Linked DNA regions of Homo sapiens: region 2 is linked to region 1. Evidence: fine-mapped expression QTL. A gene starts in region 1. The other region holds a variant in brackets. All regions are shown on one strand. Distances are from middle to middle.

Region 1 (4,389 bases):
TCATATGCTAAATTAAAAAAAGTTTATAGAGACAGGTTCTTGCGCTGTTGCGCAGGCTGGAGTGCAGTGGCATGATCATAGCTCACTGTAGCCTCAAAGTCCTAGCCTCACGTGATCATCCCATCTCAGTCTCTCAAAATGCTGAGATTATAGGTATTAGCCTCTGCCTGGCCGAATATGGTAAATATCGATAGGTATAACACACATAAATAAAAGTTATTTTGAGTCCTCAATAATTTTTAAGTGTATAGGGGTCCTAAGACCAAAACGTTTGAGAAACAATGATTTATGTTTTTAAATGTTATTTAACAGTTAGTTTGACTGATTAGTTTTATATAGACAAATGTTGCCTAAAATTAGAATTGAATTTCAGCAAATCTTTCTTTCTTTTTTTGAGACGGAGTCTCGCTTTGTCGCCCAGGCTGGAGTGCAGTGGCACGATCTTGGCTTACTGCAAGCTCTGCCTCCCGGGTTCCTGCCATTCTCCTGTCTCAGCCTCCCGAGTAGCTGGGACTACAGGCGCCCGCCACCACGCCTGGCTAATTTTTTGTATTTTTAGTAGAGACAGGGTTTCACCGTGTTAGCCAGGATGGTCTCGATCTCCTGACCCGCCCGCCTCAGCCTCCCAAAGTGCTGGGATTACAGGCGTGAGCCACCGCGCCCGGCCTGAATTACATCATTTAAGAGTGGAAGCCTCAGAGGCCTTCAGGTCAGGTCTATGTCCCGCTACTGCATGTACTGCATTACCTAGGGGTGTCAGCCTGCTTCCCTATCTGCAAATGAATAAAACAGTATCCATCCTAGAGTGGTTGTAGACAAGCACTGGGTTGTATGTAAAGCGCTAGCACAGAGCCATGAACACAATCATCTATTGTACTTAGGTTAGTTGGGTCTGAGAAGAAATGGAGAAAACAGAGTTGATTCTGCTTACTTCACAATTTACCCCAGGGATGGTTTTGTTGGCTTTGTTTCCATGGTTGTTGCCTTTTCCACAGCTCTGCTACGTAAATTCTTGGGAAAAAAAAATTATTTGAAAGTTCTCTGGGACCAGCGAGGTGGCTCGCACTTGTTAATCCCAGCACTTTGGGAAGCCGAGACGGGAGGATCGCCCGAGGTCAGGAGTTTGAGACTAGCCTGCCCAACATGGCGAAACCCCGTCTGTACTAAAAATACAAAAATTAGCCGGGCGTGGTGGGGCGTGCCTGTAATCTCAGCTACTCGGGAGGCTGAGGCAGAAGAATCACTTGAACCTGGGAGGAGGATGTTGCAGTGAGCATCACTGCACTCCAACCTGGGCGACAGTGCGAGACTCCGTCTCAAAACAAACGAACAAACAACCAACCAACACCCCGCTGCCCCCCCCCCAAAAAAATTCTCTGGTATTATAGTCATATTTCCATCCTATTTCCACAGCAGGGGTGAGGATCCTTTGCCATCCCATTTTTCTGATAAAAACACCTTCTTCAGCCGGGCGCAGTGGCTCACGCCTGTAATCCTCGCACTTTGGGAGGCCGAGGTGGGCGGATCACCTGAGGTCGGGCGTTCCAGACCAGCCTGACCAACATGGAAAAACCCCGTCTCTACCAAAAATACAAATTAGTAGGGCGTGGTGGCGCATGCCTGTAATCCCAGCTACTTGGGAGGCTGAGGCAGGAGAATCGCTTGAACCCAGGAGGCAGAGATTGCAGAGAGCCGAGATCGCTCCACTGCACTCCAGCCTGGGCATCAAGAGTGAAACTCTATCTCAAAACAAACAAACAAACAAACAAACAAAAAACACATTCTTCAAGGGAAAACATGTTTTTAAGTGGCTTCTAGAGATTATAAACTCTGCAATAATATTAGTCTGCAAATAAAACACCTGACAAAATCATCCACCAGAGGAAGTGGTGAGGGTTTCTAAATCCAAAAAAGTCTCAAGGTTATGAAACAGGAACATTTAATCTCTGAGAAAACCTAAACGGAGTTGGAAAGAAACAATTTCCAACTCACTGTGGTCCAGTTTTCTTTTCACGAACTCCTTTTTGCTTAGCCAACATAGCCAACACGAAAACGGGTACCGAGGAGGTGTTACAAGCCACAGTAAATTTCTCAACAGATTCCTATGACCCTTGTGGAGGGGAAAAAAACCAGAAGAAATGCCCGAGAGCTTCTGGGAGCTCTCCAGCTTTCCCGCCTAAACGCTGAGGGGAGTAAGGGGGAGTGACGGGGCTAGGGCGGGGCCCGAGGCTGGGGCGTGGCGCGTTGATTTCCCCGCCCCTCCCCGTTCCTTTTCCTCTGTGCCCCTCCCACACGCCTGTCTCCACGATCCCGACAGGCCCAGCGGCTAGGAGAGTCACGTGAGAGTGGGCGGAGGGGGTGGAGGTTTGTCTCCGCTGTTTCATCTCTATGGCTGTCAGAGGTGGGCGGCTTTGACCGAGAGGCTGCTGGAGCTCGTGTTTGGACGCGTGAGTCTTGGACTCTGGAGGGTATAAGGAGACAGCAATTTAGGGAAGGCGAAGGGGAAGGGGGTTGGCGAGACAGCCTTAGGGAACTGGGCTTCGTGGCTGGCCGTTTGTCCGCCCCGGGCATCCGGCTACTTCTCGGGTCTGGCGGGATACCTGTCTCTCCCTGATGCGCTCAGCTTTTGGAGAGGAGTCCGTAGTCTTGCTTGCCTCCCGTCCTCCACTTTCCTTCACCCCAACCCGTCCCTTCTCCCGTCCCGGGAGAACTTCTCCCAGTGCCGGGTTCGCAACTTGGCGCCGACGCCCCCCTCCTCACAGGCGACTGGGACACTCTGGTAGCCTTGACTGGCTCTCCTGGAATTTGTGGATGTGGTTAGAAGTGGGTGCGGGAGTTCACAGATGGATTTCTAATACGGAGAAATATTAACCACTGAATCGAAATAAGTGGAAAATCAGTGAGGACTCAAAGGAGAAATACAAAGTGCAGGCTACTCGGACTGTTCAGTTTTTATCTTTTCCAGCGCCTTCCCGTTTTCATTACGTTCTCCCTGTTTTGTTTTCACCGTCGCATTCTGGCCGGCCATAGGCTGTTTTGAGAAAGAGCTAGATGTTATTGACTCTATGTGAATGTTGGGAGAACAGTTTAAAACAAACTGTTCTTCAAGTTGCCTTCTCTGTAATCTTATGGTTGATGGTTTCTTTACCTTCCAATTTTCCATGTCTTAAAAAATACGGTGGCCATTAGTAAATATAAGTAGAATAAATATCTTATAGCTAAGGGACTAGAGTAAAATATTTTATTTTTCCTGTGGTACCTTAGAAACGCCCATTTTCTTCCTATTTATCAATAAATGTTTCTATCTCACTTGTTTGGGTGGCTTCTTTGATATGCCTTTGTTTATATTAGAACATCCCTTTGGGGCACGTAGGGAAGTGATCGAGCAGTATAAGAAAGGAGTTTGCATTTCATGAGGTGAAACAAGTTCGGTGTGGATAGCTGTAGGAGAGTTTAGGTTTCATTGGACCATATGACAAATAATAAACGTCAGTATCTTGAGACAAAGGTGTTGGCCAGAATGACCCACCTACTGTGTTTCTGGTGTGGACCAGGTAATGAGCTTTTTGAATATTGCCTTATCCTAAAAACTTTAGAACCCATTGCCACTTGTCTGTAGGAAGGTGGCTTTTGCCTCCAGCTACTCTTTGTCCCAATCCTTGGTTTGTCCCTGATTGTCTCTTCCACTTAAGAACATCACTCTGGCTACCTAATATATCAAGCAAGTGTCTCTGACATCTTCTGAGTGTCCTTACTGAGAGCCATAAAACATAATATTAACAAAAAGTGAATATTCTGGAGTGGCTTGTGTGCCTGAGGAGAAAGGGAAAGAATGATAGAAACTAATAGAAGCTAATAAATGCAAGAGAACAAAAGTGTTTATTGCTGTCTTCCTTTATATTTACTATATTCAGTAGATTGTTTACATTCCTAAGAAGTGCATCTTGAGACTAACTTTCCTGTGTTTAAGAATAAAACAGGCTGGGTGTGGTGTCTCAGGCCCATAATCCCAGCAATTTGGGAGGCCGGGTGGATCCCTTGAATCTAGGAGTTTGAGACCAGCCTGGGCAATATGGCAAGACCATCTCTACAAAACACAAAAATTAGCTGGGCGCATGCCTGTAGTCCTGGCTACTTGGGAGGCTGAGACAGGAGGATGGCTTGAGCCCTCGAGGTTGAGGCTGCAGTGAGCTGTGATCGTACCATTGCACTCCAGCTTGGGCGACAGAGCGATACCCTGTCTCTTAAAACAACAACAAAAGAATAAAACGATATGAAATTTCTCCATAATGCAATATTATGCAAAATAATTATAATTGAAATATTTAACTGACCAACTCCTTCAGATCTTATGCTATTCAGAGTTATAGGACTAATATAATTGATAAA
Region 2 (4,389 bases), 390 kb after region 1:
CACTTCCCTCCCTCTCCAGCCTGGTCCAACAATTTGCTTAGCCCCTTACCCCTACCATGCAAGACTTCAACCACCAACTGCTCATTTTTTCCATTCCTCCTGCCAGGCTGCTGGGAGCTGCTGGTGGACTTCCCCAAAGAGTGGTGCTACTGTAAATGCAAGGCCTCTCACTGCAACAGGCCCCTGAATAGGTTTGGCAAGCCTTCTGACCCTGGGACACAGGCAGTAGGCCAACTTGCCTCTCCTTTACTGAGAAAAGAGAGGCCACTGGATGGGAATGCCCCCTCTTCCTGCTGCCCCTCCTACACATTTACCCACAGCAGCACATCCTGTTCTCCCGCCTCACGCCAGCCAGGCTCTGGCTCTCACCTCCTCCCACTTCCTCAGGGATCCGTCCGTCAATTATCCCCTTTTTCTTTTCTTTCTTTCTTTTTTTTTTTTTGAGACGGAGTTTCACTCTTGTTGCCCAGGCTGGAGTGCAATGGCGCGATCTCAGCTCACCGCAACCTCCGCCTCCCAGGTTCAAGCGATTCTCCTGTCTCAGCCCCCCGAGTATCTGGGATTACAGGCACCTGCCACCATGCCTGGCTAATTTTTGTACTTTTAGTAGAGATGGGGTTTCGCCATGTTGGCCAGGCTGGTCTCGAACTCCTGACCTCAGGTGATCCACCTGCCTCGGCCTCCCAAAGTGCTTGGATTACAGGTGTAAGCCACCGTGCCTGGCCAATTATCCCCTTTTTCTTTGACCTCTCCCATTGTAAAAGAAAAAAACGAGCTCTTTGCTATGCATTCTCCTTTAACTGTCCCCCTCTCAGTCCCTCAGTTTTTGCTTCCCCTTCCCGTTGAACTTCTGGAAAGTGTTGCCTGGATTTAGCCCCACTTTCCCCTCCTCCCCTCACTCTTCCCCCACAGCATTCTGGCTCTGTCTCTGCTACCCAGAGATGGCTGCTCTTAAGACAAGGTCACCAGCCAGGCACGGTGACCTTGTAATCCCAGCACTTTGGGAGGCCAGGGCGGGAGGATTGCTTGAGCTCAGGAGTCTGAGACCAGCCTGGGCAACATGGCAAAACCGTGTCTCTACCAAAAACACAAAATTAGCCAGGTGTGGTGGCATGCATCTGTAGTCTCAGCTAATCAGGAGACTGAGATGGGAGGATTGCTTGAGCCTGGGAGGGCGAGGTTACAGTGAGCTGTGATCTCATGCCACTGCACTCCAACCTGGGTGGCAGAGTGAGATGTTGTCTCCAAAAAAAAAAAAAAAAAAAAGTCACCAACAGTCTCCATGGTAAGATCCCAACAGCAGGCAGGGAGTGGTGGCTCACATCTATAATCCTAGCACTTTGGGAAGCCAAGACGGGTGGATCACCCGAGGTAAGGAGTTAGAGACTAGCCTGGCCAACATGGCGAAACTCCGTCTCTACTAAAAACACAAAAATTAGCTGGGCATGGTGGCGGGCGCCTGTAGTCTCAGCTACTCAGGAGGCTGAAGCAGGAGAATTGCTTGAACCCAGGAGGCGGAGGTTGCAGTAAGCCTTCTCCATCCCTTGTCTCAATTGCTTGGCTGCACCATATACTGCTGTTTGCAGCCTTCTTCTCAAAATGTGCTTTCCCCTTGGTTTCTGTGACGCCGTATTCCTTGTTCCATGTCTCTCTGGGGACTTCCTGCCAGTTGCTTTCCTGGATCTTCCTACTTTGCCTGTCCCTTATATGTCTGCATGCCCTGAGGATCCCTCCCTGGTGTGATTCTCTCCTCACTCCATGGGCTGTCTCCCTGGACAATCTATCCACTCTCCACCTTTGTCTTAATAAACACCTCCAGGCTGCTGAGTCTCAAATCTAACTCCAGCCCAGCTCACTCTCCAGACTATAGACCGGTGGAGTCACTTGCCTTTTGAACAACTCTGTAGCCTGCTTCCCTCTCTGTACCCCATCTCAGTGAATGGTACCACTAGTCCCTCAGCTCCTGACACAAGAAAACTTGGGTGTCCTCTCTGAGTTATCCAAGTTCCACCAGTCACTGAATCCTGTATATGACTTTTTTTTTTTTTTTTTTTT[G/TG]AGTCTCGCTCTGGCCCAGGCTGGAGTGCAATGGCGCAATCTCGGCTCACTGCAACCTCTGACTCCCGGGTTCAAGCGATTTTCCTGCCTCAGCCTCCTGAATAGCTGGGAGTATAGGTGCCCACCACCATGCCCGGCTAATTTTTCTCTTTTTTGTAGATATGGGGTTTCACCATGTTGGCCAGGCTGGTCTCGAACTTCCTGGTCTCATGTGATTTGCCCCCCTTCATCTCCCAAAGTGCTGGGATTACAGGCATGAGCCATCATGCCAGCCTTTTTTTTTTTTTGAGACAGGGTCTCGCTCTGTCACCCGGGCAATAGCACGATCATAACTTACCGCAGCCTTGAGCTCCTGGGCTCAAGCACTCCTCCTGCCTTGGTCTCTGGAGTAGCTAGAACTACAGGTGTGTGCCAACATGCATGGCTAATCTGTAATTTTTTTTTAGAGGTGGGGGTCTTGCTATGTTGGCCAGGCTGGTCTTAACTCCTGGCCTCAAGCGATCCTCCCACTTGGGCCTCCCAAAGTGTGGGATTACAGGTGTGAGCCACTACCCGCTGCCACTTCTCAAATCAAGTCCATCCTCTGTCTCCACATCTTTTTTTTTTTTTTTTTTTTGAGACAGTCTCACTCTGTCGCCCAGGCTGGAGTGCAATGGCATGATCTTGGCTCACTGCAACCTCTGCCTCCTGGGTTCAAGTGATTCTCCTGCCTCAGCCTCCTGGGTAGCTGGGATTACAGGCACCCACCATCATGCCCGGCTAATTTTTGTATTTTTGTAGAGATGGAGTTTCAACATGTTGGCCAGGCTGGTCTCAAATTCCTGACCTCAGGTGATCCGCCCACCTCGGCCTCCCAAAGTACTGGGATTACAGGCATGAGCCACTGCGCCCAGTCATATCCACACCTTTAATTTGGCCTATAGTCATCTCTTACCTGGACGACCTCAAAGGCTTCCTAAGGAATCTGGCTCTCGCCACCACCAATTCTCCACTATTCCCTCCAAGTAAATTATCTGAAGTATAACCAGATCTTGTCATGCTCCTGCCTCAAGCTCATCAGTGGTTCCCCACTGTCCTCTGGTTGAAGTTCAGATTCCTTAGCAAAGCCCACGAGTCCTACCCTCTGCCTTATTCTTGCCCTTATCACCTATGAATCAATCATAACGAACCACCCGCAGCCCCACAAAAGCAAGATGCCCTTTCCCACCCTTGGGCCTCTGCAAATTGTATTCCCTCCACCTATAAAGTTCTTCCTTCCCACCCCACTTACTTTTTCTTCAGGTCTCAGCCTAAACCTCATCCTTCATTAAAGCCTTCTCTGATGCCTGGCCCAGCTGGATTAGTTGTCTCTGCTATGGGATTGTCCAGCACCTCATGCTTTCCCCATCAGAGCAATTATTACACTTAAAATGACCTTTCTGTTCCTCTTAATATTTATTTATAAACTTCTTGAGGTTGATGACTGGGTCTTGTTTTACAGCATATCCTTAGCATCTAGCAGACACTAGACACACAGTGCTAGCGTCTGCTGAAAGAATGACAGACATTTGGAAAGGAACATCCTCTCTATTGCTGTAACAAATTGTATGTTGTTTCATTACCTGCTCTAAACAGGTTTTTTTTGGTTTTCTTTTGTTTTTTTTTTGAGACGGAGTCTCACTGTCACCCAGGTTGGAATGCAGTGGTGCGGTCTTGGCTCACTGCAACCTCCACCTCCCAGGTTCTAGAGATTCTCCTGCCTCAGCCTCCTGGGTGGTTGGGATTACAGGCGTGTGCCACTGCACCCAGCTATTTTTTTTTTTTTTTTTTCTGAGACAGTGTCTTACTCTGTTGCGCAGGCTGGAGTGCAGTGGCATGATCTTGGCTCACTGCAACCTCTGTTTCCTGGGTTCTAGAGATTCTCCCACCTCAGCCTCCCGAGTAGTTGGGATTACAGGCGTGCACCACCACACCAGCTAATTTTTGTACTTTTACTAGAAATAGGGTTTTGCCATGTTGGCCAGGCTGGTCTCCTGACCTCAGGTGATCTGCCCACCTCGGCCTCCCAAAGTCCTGGGGTTATGGGCGTGAGCCACCGCACCTGGCCCCACCTAATTTTTGTATTTTTATTAGGGATGGGGTTTCACTATGTTGGCTAGGCTGGCCTGGAACTCCTGACCTCAGGTGATCTGCCCGCCTTGGCCTCCCAAAATGCTGGGATTACAGGTGTGAGCCACTGTGCCTGGCCTCTAAACAGCTTATATTATAAAAAGAAACAGGCTGATTTGGGAAAACAACTCCTCCTTGGGAAACTTGACAGACACGAGAAATTAGAGTAACTGTGAGGTGAGATTA

What was found. PIP is the estimated chance that this variant, and not a neighbour inherited with it, causes the effect. A credible set is the group of variants that fine-mapping cannot tell apart.
Region 2: its variant is the best candidate, but not a certain one, in a credible set for the expression of MICU1 in whole blood (INTERVAL, PIP 0.55).

The regions. Positions count from the first base shown.
Region 1 is chr10:72,624,068-72,628,456 of GRCh38, reverse strand. MICU1 (mitochondrial calcium uptake 1) reads left to right here and starts at 2,378. Exons shown (of 12, transcript NM_001195518.2): 1 at 2,378-2,447. RefSeq lists enhancers at 2,374-2,523, 2,074-2,611.
Region 2 is chr10:72,238,716-72,243,104 of GRCh38, reverse strand. No RefSeq gene overlaps it. Among named protein-coding and RNA genes, the nearest start is that of ASCC1, 25 kb to the right of the region's middle. The variant G/TG (reference allele first, on the strand shown) is at 2,056.